Regions from separate parts of the Homo sapiens genome. Here all the other regions are linked to region 3. Evidence: fine-mapped expression QTL. A gene starts in region 3. Each other region holds a variant in brackets. All regions are shown on one strand. Distances are between the middles of the regions. Region 1 overlaps PTK7 (protein tyrosine kinase 7 (inactive)). Region 2 overlaps PTK7 (protein tyrosine kinase 7 (inactive)). Region 3 holds the start of PTK7 (protein tyrosine kinase 7 (inactive)).

The links. PIP is the estimated chance that this variant, and not a neighbour inherited with it, causes the effect.
Region 1: its variant is fine-mapped to the expression of PTK7 in whole blood (TOPMed, PIP above 0.99). The same link has a PIP of 0.9 or more in blood mononuclear cells.
Region 2: its variant is fine-mapped to the expression of PTK7 in tibial nerve (GTEx, PIP 0.97).

Annotation. Positions count from the first base shown.
Region 1 is chr6:43,139,910-43,145,011 of GRCh38, forward strand. PTK7 (protein tyrosine kinase 7 (inactive)) reads left to right here. Exons shown (of 20, transcript NM_002821.5): 11 at 1,759-1,908; 12 at 2,022-2,172; 13 at 2,263-2,390; 14 at 3,508-3,711; 15 at 4,542-4,697. Among named protein-coding and RNA genes, the nearest start is that of SRF, 29 kb to the right of the region's middle. RefSeq lists an enhancer at 3,517-3,606. The variant T/G (reference allele first, on the strand shown) is at 2,408.
Region 2 is chr6:43,098,381-43,103,482 of GRCh38, forward strand. All of the region lies in intron 1 of PTK7 (protein tyrosine kinase 7 (inactive)), which reads left to right. Among named protein-coding and RNA genes, the nearest start is that of PTK7, 25 kb to the left of the region's middle. The variant G/T (reference allele first, on the strand shown) is at 2,252.
Region 3 is chr6:43,073,547-43,078,648 of GRCh38, forward strand. PTK7 (protein tyrosine kinase 7 (inactive)) reads left to right here and starts at 2,768. Exons shown (of 20, transcript NM_002821.5): 1 at 2,768-3,021. The coding sequence starts at 2,943. It overlaps KLC4 (kinesin light chain 4), which reads left to right. Exons shown (of 16, transcript NM_201521.3): 15 at 356-419; 16 at 1,076-1,547. The coding sequence ends at 1,126. KLC4-AS1 (KLC4 antisense RNA 1) reads right to left here and starts at 2,684. Exons shown (of 2, transcript XR_002956347.1): 1 at 2,149-2,684; 2 at 787-1,721. RefSeq lists an enhancer at 1,903-2,426 and a silencer at 2,756-2,855.

The DNA of each region.
Region 1 (5,102 bases), 66 kb after region 3:
TTGAGACCAGCCTGGCCAACATGGTGAAACCCCATCTCTACTAAAAATGCAAAAGTTAGCCAGGCGTGGTGGCACATGCTTGCAATCCCAGCTGCTTAGGAGGCTGAAGCAGGAGAATCGCTTGAACCCAGGAGGTGGAGGCTGCAGTGGGCCGAGATCATGCCATTGCACCAGAGTCTGGCTGACAGAGTGAGACTCTGACTCAAAAGAAAAAAGAAACAAAAGTTACATGGGCTCCTTTACAAAATACTGGAAGAGGCCGGGCGTGGTGGCTCACGCCTGTAATCCCAGCACTGTGGGAAGCTGAGGTGGGTGGATCACGAGGTCATGAGATAGAGACCATCCTGGCTAACATAGAGTAGTGAAACCTCGTCTCTACTGAAAATACAAAAAATTAGCCAGGGGTGGCGGCACGCATCTGTAGTGCCAGCTACTCGGGAGGCTGAGGTAGGAGAATTGTTTGAACCCAGGAGGCGGAGGTGGCAGTGAGCCGAGATTGTGCCACTGCACTTCAGCCTGGGTGGCAGAGCGAGACTCCATCTCAAAAAAAAAAAAAAAAATATTGGGAGAAAAAATGTACAGTCCTGCCGTTTATCATCTTTGGGTGTATGTCTTCTTTTTCTGTGCATATGTTTTTCTTTTTTTACCTAGCAGTTTTATTGTATATATAGTTTCAGTTATTAAATTTACATGATTGGCTGAGTGTGGTAGCTCATGCCTGTAATCCCAGCACTTTGGGAGGCCGAGGTGGGAGGATCGCTTGAGCCCAGGAGTTCAAGACCAACCTGGGCAATACAGGGAGACCCTGTCTGTACAAAAAATTTAAAAATTAGCCAGGCATGGTGGTGCATGCCTGTAGACATGCTTATTGTAGAATTAGACAATACAGATAACTATGTAGTTTTTAAAAATATTTTTTAAAATTATTTATTTTTATTTTTTTTGTAACGGTGTAATTTTATACCCTTTTTTACTTACCATTGTCAAGCATTTCCCCACATCTTTATACACTCTTCATGAATATTTGTTTTGATGATCCTAATAATATTTCAACAATTGGATTCACTGTAATTTACTTAACTGTTCCTTAAATGTTGGAGATTTGGGTTGTTAACCAGCCACCCACCCACCCCCTTTTTTTTCATTGCTGCAATAAACATCTTTAAGCCAAAGTTTTTTTCTGGATTTAGGTTTATTTCCTTTGGGAAAGATTCCCAGAATTGGGATAATTATGCACGAAAGGGGGTATGAACATTTTTATAGCCCTTGATGTGAGTTGCCAAATTATTTTTTAAAAGGTTGGACCAATTTTGACATTTCCACCTAGAGTGAGAGAGTACAGTTGTAGATTCTGAGGAGGAAGTAGGCTCCCTCTGCTCAGGTCTGGGGGAACTTTCTGGGAGAGGTGAGGCTTAAAATGGATCTACAGCCTGGGATGGTAAAGAGCGGGAATGGGCTCTAGGAGGGAGAAGTGATGGGCAGCGGAGTAGGAACAGGGCCGATCTGGGCCCAAACAGAGTCCGGTTTGGCAGACGTGGAATGTCACACAGGGCAGTAGGAGGAAGAGGTGAGACTGAAGAATTGGAAGAGGGGTAAATAACGGAGGGGCTTCTAACACTTGGCTCAGGAGTTTGGACTTTGCCTGTGGGTGGTCAGGAGCGATGGTGTGTTTTTGAGTAGAGGTGAGGGACTGAAGGCATTGCCAGCTGTCTGTGTAACCCTGATCCTTCCCATAATTTCCCTTTGTTACCCCTGCAGATGGGAGCAGCCTCCCAGAGTGGGTGACAGACAACGCTGGGACCCTGCATTTTGCCCGGGTGACTCGAGATGACGCTGGCAACTACACTTGCATTGCCTCCAACGGGCCGCAGGGCCAGATTCGTGCCCATGTCCAGCTCACTGTGGCAGGTGCGACCGTGGCAGGGCCCTGGGGCTGGGAGGGCCCTCTGGGGTAGCACCGTGTACCCTGCCAGCCCCTTGGCTTACCCCTCCCTGCGCCTCGCTGGTCTCTTTTCTTCCAGTTTTTATCACCTTCAAAGTGGAACCAGAGCGTACGACTGTGTACCAGGGCCACACAGCCCTACTGCAGTGCGAGGCCCAGGGGGACCCCAAGCCGCTGATTCAGTGGAAAGGCAAGGACCGCATCCTGGACCCCACCAAGCTGGGACCCAGGTAGGGCCACCTCTCTCCCACACCCGTCCCTCCTCTCCTGCAGCCCCCCTCCCTGCGAGCTGGCCAGCACTATGGCTTCTCCCCCGACAGGATGCACATCTTCCAGAATGGCTCCCTGGTGATCCATGACGTGGCCCCTGAGGACTCAGGCCGCTACACCTGCATTGCAGGCAACAGCTGCAACATCAAGCACACGGAGGCCCCCCTCTATGTCGTGGGTATGGGCTGGGGAGGG[T/G]TATGCTGCACAGGAAGTGGTGGGCCCAGACGTTTGTCACCTTGTACTCAGCCCCTGTGTACAGAACATGGCACAGAAGCCATTTTTGTGGCAGCGGTGGGGATTCGGCCGTCTCACCATGCTGCTGCACAGTCTTAGAGTCCTTGCTCAGAGCCGGGCTGTCGTTTATTTAACATCCAACGGTCGGTGTGTGTGTGTGTGTGTTGTGGGGGAGTGGGGGGGTGTTCTCTTCCTACAATGCTGCCTCCCAGGTTCCTGCAGCAGCCACACATATCTCTGGGTGGCTGGGGAGGAGGACCAGGTCAGAATGCAGTAGGACAAGGTTCTTTTCTCCAGGAGGCCCAGAGAGGATGATGGGTCAGGTAAAAGGCCCTGCACTTAACTCTCTGCCCCTGGGAGACTTATTTCTCCTCTGGGGACTTGTTTCTGCATCCACAGGTGAAAGTGGTTTAAATGAGAAGCTCTTAAACTTTCTTGGTTTGGCAGCAGAGTTATTTTTCTAGACAAAGTATAATGTGAAAGTTTAAATGGATGAAAATGAACTGAGGAGGCCCCCTTGGTGGGAGCCACTGGGGTGTGTGTGGCAGTTGGGGGATCCTGCATGGTCTCCCTTCATTCCCCTAATGCCTCTTGAGGCCCCTCAGTGTGGGCCATTAAAAGGCCCCTAGACCAGCAGATCCCTTCTACAGATCTGCTTATTGAAAAACCTGCTCTGTGCCAGGCAGTGCCTGGAATTCTAAACCTGAAGCTCCCAAATGCTGCTCTCCGGGGCCTGGCTCACATTATCAAGTCACTTGGGAAGCTTAACAAATAACGTGGGTTTGTGGTAGCTCCTTGACAGGTGTGCTTATCCGTGTCGCCTGTCTTGGCTTCCGATGCAAAGCCAGCTTGGGAACCCCTGGCCTCATCTCCTTCAGAGTCTTCGTTTGACCTTGGTGGGGCATGAGGACCTGCTGGCCCTTGTTAAAGCCAGTGAAGGTGGTGACCCTCCCGGGCCATCTGTTAAGTTGCCCTGTTGATGGGGTTGGGAGGAGTTAGTAGAGAAGCAGGGCTTCTTTTGCTTAGCAGCCCCTGCCCAGACCCATCTGTGTGTCTCTCAGACAAGCCTGTGCCGGAGGAGTCGGAGGGCCCTGGCAGCCCTCCCCCCTACAAGATGATCCAGACCATTGGGTTGTCGGTGGGTGCCGCTGTGGCCTACATCATTGCCGTGCTGGGCCTCATGTTCTACTGCAAGAAGCGCTGCAAAGCCAAGCGGCTGCAGAAGCAGCCCGAGGGCGAGGAGCCAGAGATGGAATGCCTCAACGGTGAGGGGCCCTGGACGGGGAGGTGGTGCCCGTGTGCGGGAGCTGAGCGCCCTCCCGCGGCCACGGAGGGGAGAGCGCCAGCACTCTGGAAACCGAGCGGCTGTTGCTGGGTCCTGGAGCTGGGACTGCCCCACCCCTAGCGGGAAGCCTGGAGTTGGATTCCCAGGGCCTCGTCTTCTGAGCAACCTGGCTTGAGACTTCTTCATTGGAGCCCCTTGGACCAGCTTCCTATGATTCCCTGCTGTTTCCTCCTCCCAGCACAAAACCACAGATATCATTAGTATATGTACACACGTTGCTGTTGCATGTCTTGTCTCCCTCTATGAGTCTAAGAGCTCCCCCAGGGGCAGTCTTTCTGTTTACTTCCCTTCTCCTATCCCCACTTCCTGGACTGGGAGCTCCTTGAGGTCATTGCTGGGTCTCTCCTATCAGCTCAGGTGTTCAGGAGCAGAGGTTGGGTCTCCATTATTGTGATTTTCCCTTTGTGCCTGTTTAGGGCTTTGCCCAATAGGAGGCCCCATGAAAGCAAAAATCCTTATGTGTAGCTATGGTATTAAGGACCAGTGATTCAGATTAGATGTCTGCAGTTGGCTTCATCTCAGAGGTCATAATCAGCTGCATCACTAAGGGGTCATACCCTAGGGGATAGCCATACATCCCCCACCCAGCCCCAGCCCCATTATTTCATCATTTGGGCTTGCCCTTTCATGTGGAGCACTGTGATTGGACCCAAGTTGGCAAGAGTGGAAGACCAGGGGACAGAACAGAAATCCCCATGGTGGCCAGAGTGTCAGGTCTCATCGTGACGCTCTTGTCCTCCTCCTTCCCAGGTGGGCCTTTGCAGAACGGGCAGCCCTCAGCAGAGATCCAAGAAGAAGTGGCCTTGACCAGCTTGGGCTCCGGCCCCGCGGCCACCAACAAACGCCACAGCACAAGTGATAAGATGCACTTCCCACGGTCTAGCCTGCAGCCCATCACCACGCTGGGTATGTTGCCTTGACTACAGCTGCCCCTGCCTAACTACAAGTCACCCGCTGTGTCTTGAGGCTGGGTACGGGCTAGTGTTCTGAAGTCCCTGAAACCTAGAATGTTAGAGGTGGAGGGAAGCATAGGTAGAGATCTAGCCCAGTGTGGCCCCAGAGCCTGTTATTCACTGCCCTTCGTGCAGATTTTGTCATTCCTGTGTACTACCTGTAGTATTATTTACTTGATGTTTTATTTAAATTGACTCTTTAAAAAAAAAAACTAAGTTACCATTGTTCTAGGAAAAAATATGAGAAATCATGGGTTTGTCATAGTTACGTTTTTTCCTAGCATACGTTAAGACATGTTTACCATGAGCCACCAAAAATTCTCATGCGAGTCACCCTTTGGAAAATGCTGAATATTAG
Region 2 (5,102 bases), 25 kb after region 3:
AGCCTCGCTCTGTCGCCCAGGCTGGAGTGTAGTGGTGCAATTTCAGCTCACTGCAACCTCTTCCTCCTGGGTTCAAGCAATTCTTCTGCCTCAGCCTCCCAAGTAGCTGGGATTACAGGCGCCTGCCACCATGCCTGGCTAATTTTTGCATTTTTAGTAGAGATGGGGTTTTGCCGTGTTGTCTAGGCTGGTCTCGAACTCCTGACCTCAGGTGATCCACCCGCCTCAGCCTCCCAAAGTGTTAGGATTACAGGAGTGAGCCACCGCGTCCTGCCAAGTCAAGATTTTTTAAAAGTAGTAAACGGTATGCTACTAGAATTGAAAAGCAAGAAATATGCTTTGCAGATCATAAGAGGTGAAGAAACTAAATAAAATCATATTTACAACAAAGGAAGCATTATAATATTAAAATGTGAAACAGATAAAAGCAAAGACAGATATATCAGTCATGATGATAAATTTCAGTGGAATAAGTCTCCAACTGAAATGGAGTTTAGATTGAATAAGAAAGTTTCATGTTCTTTACATAATACAAACCTAAAATAATGGCAAAGTTTGTTTTATTCTTTTTTCTAACTTTAGGCCAATAGATTAATTTATTTTCATTTATTTCAGTCTCATTTTTTAGGAAATAATTTACGATTATTAATTTTCTTTTGAATACAACTTTGAAATTAATAAATTTGAAATTAAAAATATAAAATAGATAAGTCATTTAGGATCCAGTACTTAAAAAAAAAAGGAAAAAAAATGTGACTTTGGCAATTCTAATGTAGAAAAATAAAAGGACAATAGGTAAAACAAAGAAAAAAAAAGAGGCTTTAATTTCATTCATAGCTTCCCAACTATTTTTCCTTTTTTTTTTTTTTTGAGATAGGGTCTCACTCTGTCACCCAGACTGGAGTGCAGTGGCACAATCATGGCTCATTGCAGCCTCGACTTCCCAGACTCAAGCAATCCTCCCACCTCAGCCTCCTGAGTAGCTGGGACTACAGGCAAGCACCACCATGCCTGGCTAATTAAAAAAATTTTTTTATAGAGTCAGGGTATCACCATGTTGCCCAGGCTGGTCTCAAACTCCTGAACTCCAGCAGTCTGCCCAAAGTGATGGGATTACAGCCATGAGCCACTGCGCCTGGCCCACAGCTATTTCTTGAGTACATTCTAGGTACCCAGTAGGTACTAGGGATATAGATAGAGCAGGGAATGGGATGAAAAAATTCACTGTCCCCAGAGAGCTTACCATTTAACAGAGGGCTACCATTTAAGGAAATGTATACTAATAATTAGATTTGTGATCATTGTGATAGGAAAATATTTTAATATTTATCGGGGTTACCATGTTTGGTGCTATGCTAATAAATCTGTGCCAGGGAAATATAATGACTGAAATTTATTAAAGAATCTGGCTGGGGGTGGTGGCTTACACTTGTAATGCCAGCACTTTTGGAGGCCGAGGCAGGCAGATCACTTGAGTGCAGGAGTTCGAGACCAGCTTTTGAGACTCCATCTCTTTTTTTTTCTGAAATGGAGTTTCACTCTTGTTGCCCAGGCTGGAATGCAATGGCACGATTCTCCTGCCTCAGCCTCCCAGGTGTCTGGGATTACAGGCATGTGCCACCACGCTTGGCTAGTTTTTTGTATTTTTAGTAGAGATTTAGGGATTACAGCTGTGAACCACTGCACCTGGCCTGAGACCCTGTCTCTTAAAAAAAAATCATGACTGGGCATAGTGTCTCAGGCCTGTAATCCCAGTACTTTGGGAGGCTGAGACGGGCGGATCACGAGGTCAAGAGATGGAGACCATCCTGGTTAACACAGTGAAACCCCGTCTCTACTAAAAATATGAAAAATTAGCTGGGCGTGGTGGCGGGTGCCTATAGTCCCAGCTACTCAGGAGGCTGAGGCAGGAGAATGGTGTGAACCCAGGAGGCGGAGCCTGCAGTGAGCTGAGATCACACCACTGCACTCCAGCCTGGGTGACAGAGCGAGACTCCATCTCAAAAAAAAAAAAAAATCATTAGGGTTTTTTTAAAAAAAAATGATAGACATTACTACTTGTAACTTTTTTTTTAGTCATATTTGAAAAAGTAGAAAATTGAACTGTAATTTGATTTTTTTCAAAGATGTCTGTTAAATCTGTTTTGATTTTATATGCATTTTTGTCTTTATAGTTTAAAACTGATTTTTTTGGGAATACAGCTGAAGTTCCCAAATACTTTATAGGAGTTTATGAGATATCTTTAATTTG[G/T]CCGTGTCCAATTTATATAATTTCCAAAATACTGCAGATTGTGAACAGGGCATTATACAAGATCACGGGGGAAATCCTATATTCAGAGTACTCTACAAATTTGTGTGTATGTGTTTGTGTGGTTACCAGAGAACTACCAAAAACCAACTGCTTTTTAAATCCTGCTGTGTAGTTCAAGTGTCTTGCCTTGACCAATCTAATGAGTTGATTAGCTGGTCCTTAATACTTAACTAAATGAAAAACTAAGCAGATGTGAAAAAAAAAATTAAAATGACTGGATAGACAGTAACTCTTAAAAACGATTGAAAGATAGTTGTATCACTGGGTGCGGTGGCTCACGCCTGTAATCCCAGCACTTTGGGAGGCCGAGGCGGGCAGATCACTTGAGGTCCAGAGTTCGAGACCAGCCTGATCAACATGGAGAAACCCCGTCTCTACTAAAAATACAAAATTAGCCGGGCATGGTGGCGCATGCCTGTAATCCCAGCTACTCCGGAAGCTTGAACCCGGGAGGCGGAGGTTGCTGTGAGCTGAGATCGCACCATTGCACTCCAGCCTGGGCAACAAGAGCGAAGCTCTGTCTCAAAAAAAAAAAAAGAAAGAAAGAAAGAAAGAGGCTGGGCGCGGTGGAAAGAAAGAGGCTGGGCGCGGTGGCTCACGCCTGTAATCCCAGCACTTTAGGAGGCAGAGGCGGGCGGATCACAAGGTCAGGAGATTGAGACCATCCTGGCTAACATGGTGAAACTCTGTCTCTACTAAAAATACAAAAAATTAGCCGGGCGTGGTGGTGGGCACCTGTAGTCCTAGCTACTCGGGAAGCTGAGGCATGAGAATGGCATGAACCCGGGAGGCAGAGCTGGCAGTGTGCTGAGATTGCGCCACTGCACTCCAGCCTGGGTCACAGAGCAAGACTCCGTCTCAAAAAAAAAAATAAAAAAAAAAAGAAAGATAGTTGTATCAAATAGTTTTGAGGGAAAATTTTGAAAAATGTTGAAGAAGTAGAGCCTGTAAATGCTTTGTAGAGACTGTCACAGAGCCAAGGAACAGATGGACAACAGCCTGTGTGTGTCACAAAGTTGATATAGCTTTGTTCTCAAATGCTGACAGTGCAGAAAACCACACTACTTAGAAACGTTGGTGTAAAAGTCTAATATAGAATACTTGAAAATTAAATCTAACACTATGATAAACGGTAATGTGCCATAAACAAGTAAAGGATGTATTCCCAAAAATGCATGGGTGGCTTACCCTTTATAACTCATCAACATAAGACGTCAGAGGTGGCTGGGCGTGGTGGTTCACGCCTGTAATCCCAGCACTTTGGGAGGCCGAGGCGGGCAGATCATCTGAGGTCAGGAGTTTGAGACCAGCCTGGCCAACATGGTGAGACCCCGTTTCTACTAAAAAAAATACAGAGTGCCACTTGACCCTCTGTGTCTTGCAGTTGATTGGTGTGCTTGCCTCCAACTCTGGAGGTGGGTGGTTCCAGCCCGTTCTTGGGAGCATCTCTTGGCCAGGTGAGGTGGCTCATGCCTGTAATCCCAGCACTTTGGGAGGCCGAGGTGGGCGGATCACCTGAGGTCAGGAGTTTGAGACCAGCCCGACCAATACAGTGAAACCCCATCTCTACTAAAAACCCAAAAATTAGCTGGGCATGGTGGCGGGCGCCTGTAGTCCCAGCTACTTGGGAGGCTTAGACAGGAGAATTGCTTGAACCCGGGAGATGGAGGTTGCAGTGAGCCAAGGCCGTGCCACTGCACTCCAGCTTGGGCAACAGAGCAAGACTCTGTCTCAAAGAAAAAAAAAAATTAGCCGGTTGTGTTGGCGGGTCCCTGTAATACCAGCTACTTGGGAGACTGGGGCAGGAGAATTGCTTAAACCCAGGAAGTGGAGGTTGCGGTGCATTGAGATCCTACCACTGCATTCCAGCCTGGGCAACAGAGCAAGACTTTGTTCCCCCTACCCCACCAAAAAAAAACCAAAAAAAAACAAACCAACCGCAAAGGTGTCACACAATTCTCTCAATAGAGGCAAAAATGACACTAGATATAAATTAACATCCATTTCTGATTAAAAAAACAAACATAGCCATCATTATACTTAAAAATGAAATACAATGCTATTTGCATTAAAATGAAGTTACTAAATTAAAATAATAAAGTCACTACTATTTATTATTATTTTAGCTGAAATAATGCTATAAGAAAGAATATAGCCAGGTGGCGTGTACCCATCGTCCCAGCTAGTTGGGAGGCTGAGGTGGGAGGATTGCAGCTTGGACAACTAAGCAAGACCCTGTCACTTACAGGAAAAAAAAAGACTGAAAGTCTAAATAAAGTTCATGTTTTTTGCAGAGGTACCTTTTTTACATGGGAAACCCAATTATCAACTGAAAAACTACTACAATCAGTGAGAGAACTGAGTCATTTGGGCAAATACAAAACCTACACAAAACCCAGAAGGTTTGCTGCTTATCAGCAAGTAACCATTTAGAAAATACAACAGGAACATTTATCCATTCACAGAATCAATAAAAATAAAAACAAAATGCTCAGGCATAAACCATTATAATGGAAACTGTATTGACAGCACCAGTAAATACCCTTCTCCCTTCTGAGTTTAAAACCAGTCGAAGGGGGTGAAAGAGAGGGAGAAAAACAGACAGACCAGGGATTGGATGATGGAGATCAGAGTATCACTTTTATTTGTTTTAAAGGCTAGGTTGAGCAAGCAACAAGGCTTTAATCTGAAGTGGATAAATGTCTTATTCATCCTTGAGTTAGGCAGACTTACTCCCTTGTCATAGCAGTGCTGGAGTATTACAGGTGTGTGTGTGTGTGTGTGTGTAGCC
Region 3 (5,102 bases):
TGAGGCAGGAGAATTGCTGGAACCCAGGAGGCAGAGGTTGCAGGGAGCCAAGATCATGCCATTGCACTCCAGCCCAGGCGACAACAGCGAGACTCCGTCTCAAAAAAAAAAAGAAAAAAAAAAAAGATATGGTAAAGCAGGCAAGTAAAGTAAGCCCTTGCCTCCAACTCCTCTTGGCTCCTGATCTCTGGAGAAGTATCTCGGAGAGAAACAGGGAGGAAGTCAACGGGCCAGCCATGGAGAGAGAGTTTGGGTAGAATGGGTGCCCCAGTGTGGCAGTGCTCAAGAGGCCCACAGCCTTAAGGCCACTCAGGAGGAAGAGAGGAGGCCTCAATTCTTCCGTTTTCCATTGTAGCAGCAACATGAAGCGAGCAGCCTCCTTGAACTATCTGAACCAACCTAGTGCAGCACCCCTCCAGGTGAGAGCAGTGCTTGTGAGCATATTGGTGGGTGAGGAAAAAAGGACAGCCAGTGAGCAAGCCCAGTGGAGTAAGGGAAGAGGGAAGGGAGAGGAGTCATCTGGGATGAAGATGAGCCAGGGGATTGCAGTCATTAAGGAATCAGGCAGATAGCTTGTGGTGAGTGCTGACCACCAAGGGACAGTTTCAGGCCAGACATAGTAGCAAATAAGTTAATAAGGAGGGAAATAGGAATATTCTGTAAACTGGTACTTTGGAATTATGAATAATTTAAGAATTATTTGGAGATACGAATTATTTTTTCATCCTGCAGCCGCCTTAGTAGTAGATGAGAATGGAAAAAGAAAAGTATTAAATAATCCCCATCTGAGAAAACACTAGTGATATTTTAATGGCAAATGACTTCTTGTATCAACACACAAGTATATGCCAGTATTCATGTGGTTCTTCCAGGTAGCTTCTCCACCAGATTGTGGCCTTCTGGAAAACCCTAGCAGAGGCTAAACAAAGTCCCAGGTCCAGAGATAGACTGGTCCAGAGACAGATGTGATCCTAGGTCCAGAGATACACTGTGACCATGGGATGGATGGACTCTAGGAGCCAGTCTTTGGGAGGCCGAGGTCCCTGAGCTGATGGGGTAGTGTTGTCTGTTTCAGGTCTCCCGGGGCCTCAGTGCCAGCACCATGGACCTCTCTTCAAGCAGCTGACATTCAACCCGGCCCCCAGGTCTGCTGGGTCCCCCCACCCCCACAGCCCTCACAGCATTCCCCATTGCTCCTGGCTCTTCCCCACCCCTAGGTGGGACAGTGAAGGGGAGCAGTTTAACCAGAAGATTGCTGCTGCCCTTAGGGTCTCAGCTCCCTCCTCAGGAATCCCTCTTAGGAAGGACCCTCAGGACACCCTCTCTGCACCCTGTGGTCCTCTAGAGTAGCTAGCTCTGAGGCCCCAAGGTGGGTACAAAGCAGGTATGGCCCTCAGAGATGCAGCCTGCTGCTGGCTTTTCAGTCAGAGGGTTGGGGGCTGGCCAGCCAAGCTGCCTTGCCCTGGCCGCTCTTACTCCCTCCCTCTGCTGTCTCACTTCAGGTCCATGTATTTCACTTTTCTTAAATAAAAGAATCAGGTAACCTTTCTGTGACTTGAGTCCTGATTGAAGAGGGTATGAAGCAGGGCTTGTGTTGGGGCCCTTCACAGAAGGTGAGGGGCAGTGATGGATGGAGCAGCAGGAGGAGTGTTGATTCTTGGATCTCTCCTCTCTTCCTCCCGTTGTTTGTATCATCTCCAGCAGGGCCTGTAGGAAGGCATCTGGGGGATGGGGAAGAAGGAGGCTCACAACCCAAGGAGAAGGTGCTGTGGACTGGGTTGTCAGGGACATGTGGTGGCCATGTGGCAGGACCCTGGAGTCCTGGCGCCACTTCTCCTGGCTGTGAGGCCCTCTGTGGCTGCCATTCCTCCTCCCAGCTGCTTGGGGGAAGGGAGGTCTAAACAGGCCTGGGGGGCCCTCCGGAACCAGAGGGGAGACAAGGCACTATCCATCCCCTCTCAGCATATCTTGGAGGCCTGAGCAGCAGCTGGGGCCCATCTTCTAAAGCTTGACTCCTCCTGACCCGCCTCCTACACCCCTTGCTGCTTTCACAACAAAGAAAGAATGTGGGGGTGGTGGCGCTGGGGGTGGGGGTGCCTGGAACAAGGGTTGTGCTGGGCCTCCCCACAGCTGGAGACTTGGCCATACCCTGACACAGCCCAGACTGCCTGGAGATGGACTTGGGATGAATTTGTCAGTTAGCAGACTTCAGCCTGGCTTTCAGAGCCCAGCGTGTTTCTACCTTTGGGTTCAGATTGGTCTACAGCCAAACCAGACCCCAGTCATGCACACTTCAGCCCCTCTCCGGGCTACACAGCATCTTCAGGTTACTTGGGGACATTAAGGACACCCTGCTGTTCTGGGTCTGCCGTTAAGATTTTGGGTTGCTGAAGAGTTGGCGGGGCCCGCCTCTTCCCCTGCCCCCACCTGGAGAATTCTGGGGGAACTGTTGGCCAGAGCCTCCAGGTATGCCCAGAATGGACCATTCTCCCCAGGGTCCACGGAATCGCACAAGTCACTTAGGTTCTCCCGGATCCCTGCAGAGTCGGTGGTGGGTACAGCAAATACTCAGGTCCCCTGCACTTCCCTGAGCCTTGCTCTCTCTATTCTCCATCCCTCTCCAGACCCCTCCCCCTACTGAGCTCCTCCCCGCCTCGGCGAGGAGGGGGCGTCGAGGGGGCGGGGCGCCGTGCGGGGGCCGGAGGGGAGGGGGCGTCGTGGGGCGGGGCTTGGCGGCGGCGGCGGCGGCGCGCGGGGACTCGGAGGTACTGGGCGCGCGCGGCTCCGGCTCGGGACGCCTCGGGACGCCTCGGGGTCGGGCTCCGGCTGCGGCTGCTGCTGCGGCGCCCGCGCTCCGGTGCGCTCCGCCTCCTGTGCCCGCCGCGGAGCGCAGTCTGCGCGCCCGCCGTGCGCCCTCAGCTCCTTTTCCTGAGCCCGCCGCGATGGGAGCTGCGCGGGGATCCCCGGCCAGACCCCGCCGGTTGCCTCTGCTCAGCGTCCTGCTGCTGCCGCTGCTGGGCGGTGAGTACCCGAGAGTTGGGGGCACAGAGCTTGGGAAGCGCGGGAGTCCCGTGGGCAAAAGGCTGCGCCCGGGGCGGTGGGTTTGGGCGGCTGGAACGGCCCTGGAGTAGTGGAGAGGCTCGCTGGGGGTGCAGGCTTGCGGCGGAAGGGCGCAAGGAGCCCGGGTGTCGGGAGGCTGGCGAAGCCTCCAGGGACGCGGTCAGGGTACCCCTCCCACTCGCGCCGCGGGGACGCATTTCCAGCCTCCCTGAGTTTTTCTGGTCTGAGCCGAGAGTTTGCTCGAGAACTGCCGAGAGTTGCTGGCTCTCGGGCCCAGATGGGGAGTTTCTTGTCGGGGGAGAAAAGACCATCCGCACCCACCGTGGGGAGCGCGATGGAGAAAAAGGAATTCCCCACCCCACCCGGCAGGGTCGGCCCAGGTAAGAGTTGCTGGTTTGGGGCCCGATGCCGGACAGACCTGCGGCGCGCAAAGCGCGGAGCTTTGTTACCTACGCCGACCCGACGTTCCCGGCTTCCCTCCTCCGAGTTCCTGGGCAAAGCTGAGACCCCAGATGGCCCTGCGGGTGAGGGCGGAAGAAGGGAAGAGTTAGGGGCCGCCCCCATCCATGGCCTCTAGCTACTGGTCTGGAACCCTGCGCCCACTCCGTGCCAGGGCCGAATCCGGGGATCCGAGGGTCCCAGGCTGTCGCGGTGACTAATGTGTGAAGGCCGCTGCCAAAATCGGGCATGGCCTGGCTGCAAAGGTGCGGACGGGGTTTGTTCTGCTCCTTCCTGGATTTCCATCCTGACTGTCCTCACAGAGGAAAGGAAGTATTTCTAAGGGAAGAAAGGCAAAAAGAGCTCATTCTGGCTTTTCTTGGGGGGGGGCCTTAGCATTTTAACGAGGGTGTGGCCCTCATCACCAGGGCAGACAGCACCGCCCCCCCAACTCCCGCAGCTTTTATTTCCTGGCTTGGTCACACCTAAGAGTCATCACTGAGGTGTTGAAGTGCCTTACAGGAAAGCACCAAGCCACCCGCACATCCCAAATAGCCCGGACTGGAAATAAAGCCCCCGACCCTCCACAACACTCCTTGGTGGTCCTCGAAGCAGCTTTCTCTTGGGGAGCTCTGTCGAGGAGACCTGTCCTAGGTGATCACCTTCCATCTCCTTTGAAGGTGGCAATGGGAAGGGCATGGGTAAGGAATTGCCTTTCTAATATCTTTCTGGCCTGCCAGCTGTGGAGGGGTTTTGGTGCTGGTGGAATCAACATCTCCCCTGCCCCCAGTTGTAAAAGGAGAGGTAAATGTAACCCAGGAAAGAGACCAATCTCCAGGGATTTGGAGGAGGTGTTTCTGGAGTTGCCCCGTTTTTCTTGTGATGTGTGTGGTGGTTATTGCTCGTGGCAGAATCCACATCTGCTCCCAGAGGAAGTATGGAAGTTTTTTTGCACAGCCAGGATGGGGGCCCAGCCATCTGGGCGAGCAGCCCAAGCTCACAGGCCCCCTGGCTGTCCTGGTTGGGTTTTGGTGTGTGGGTCTGCCCAATGAGGCTGCCTTCACTGCTGCTGTTCAGGGTACTAGAGTCAAGGGGAGTTTCTGGTGAAGATGGGGCTCTTGCTCAACAAATGCTGAATTCCTAAATTCCTTCCATGAGAAGATGACTCTGATGTTAATTGACTTAATCTGGTGACTGGTTGGTGTTTAGTGTGTGTGCGCGCGTGTGTGTGGGGGATCCTGTTGGGGGAAGTTAGGGCAGGCTGAGGGCTTAGGACAGGAGGTCTGTAGTCTCCTCAGGGGTGGGGGGATGTCTTGTGCTCAACAAAGGAACATTTTAATGAGAGCCTTAAATCAATTCCACCAAATGTGCCTTGTTGTGGAACCTGTCCATGTGCTGTAAACAATTTCAGTGGAGGCCGAGGCGCCTGCTGTCTTCTAGTGAAATCCTGGGACTCAACCCACCCCCAGACGCATGACTTCAGGGGCAACGGTTTTTTAATAGATCACAGTAGATGTTTGCATCTCATTGTTTAATTGTGTAATTAACTGGAGTTGTAGTGAGATCCCACTGTTAATAAGGCTGGAGTAAGGAACCTAGGCTGG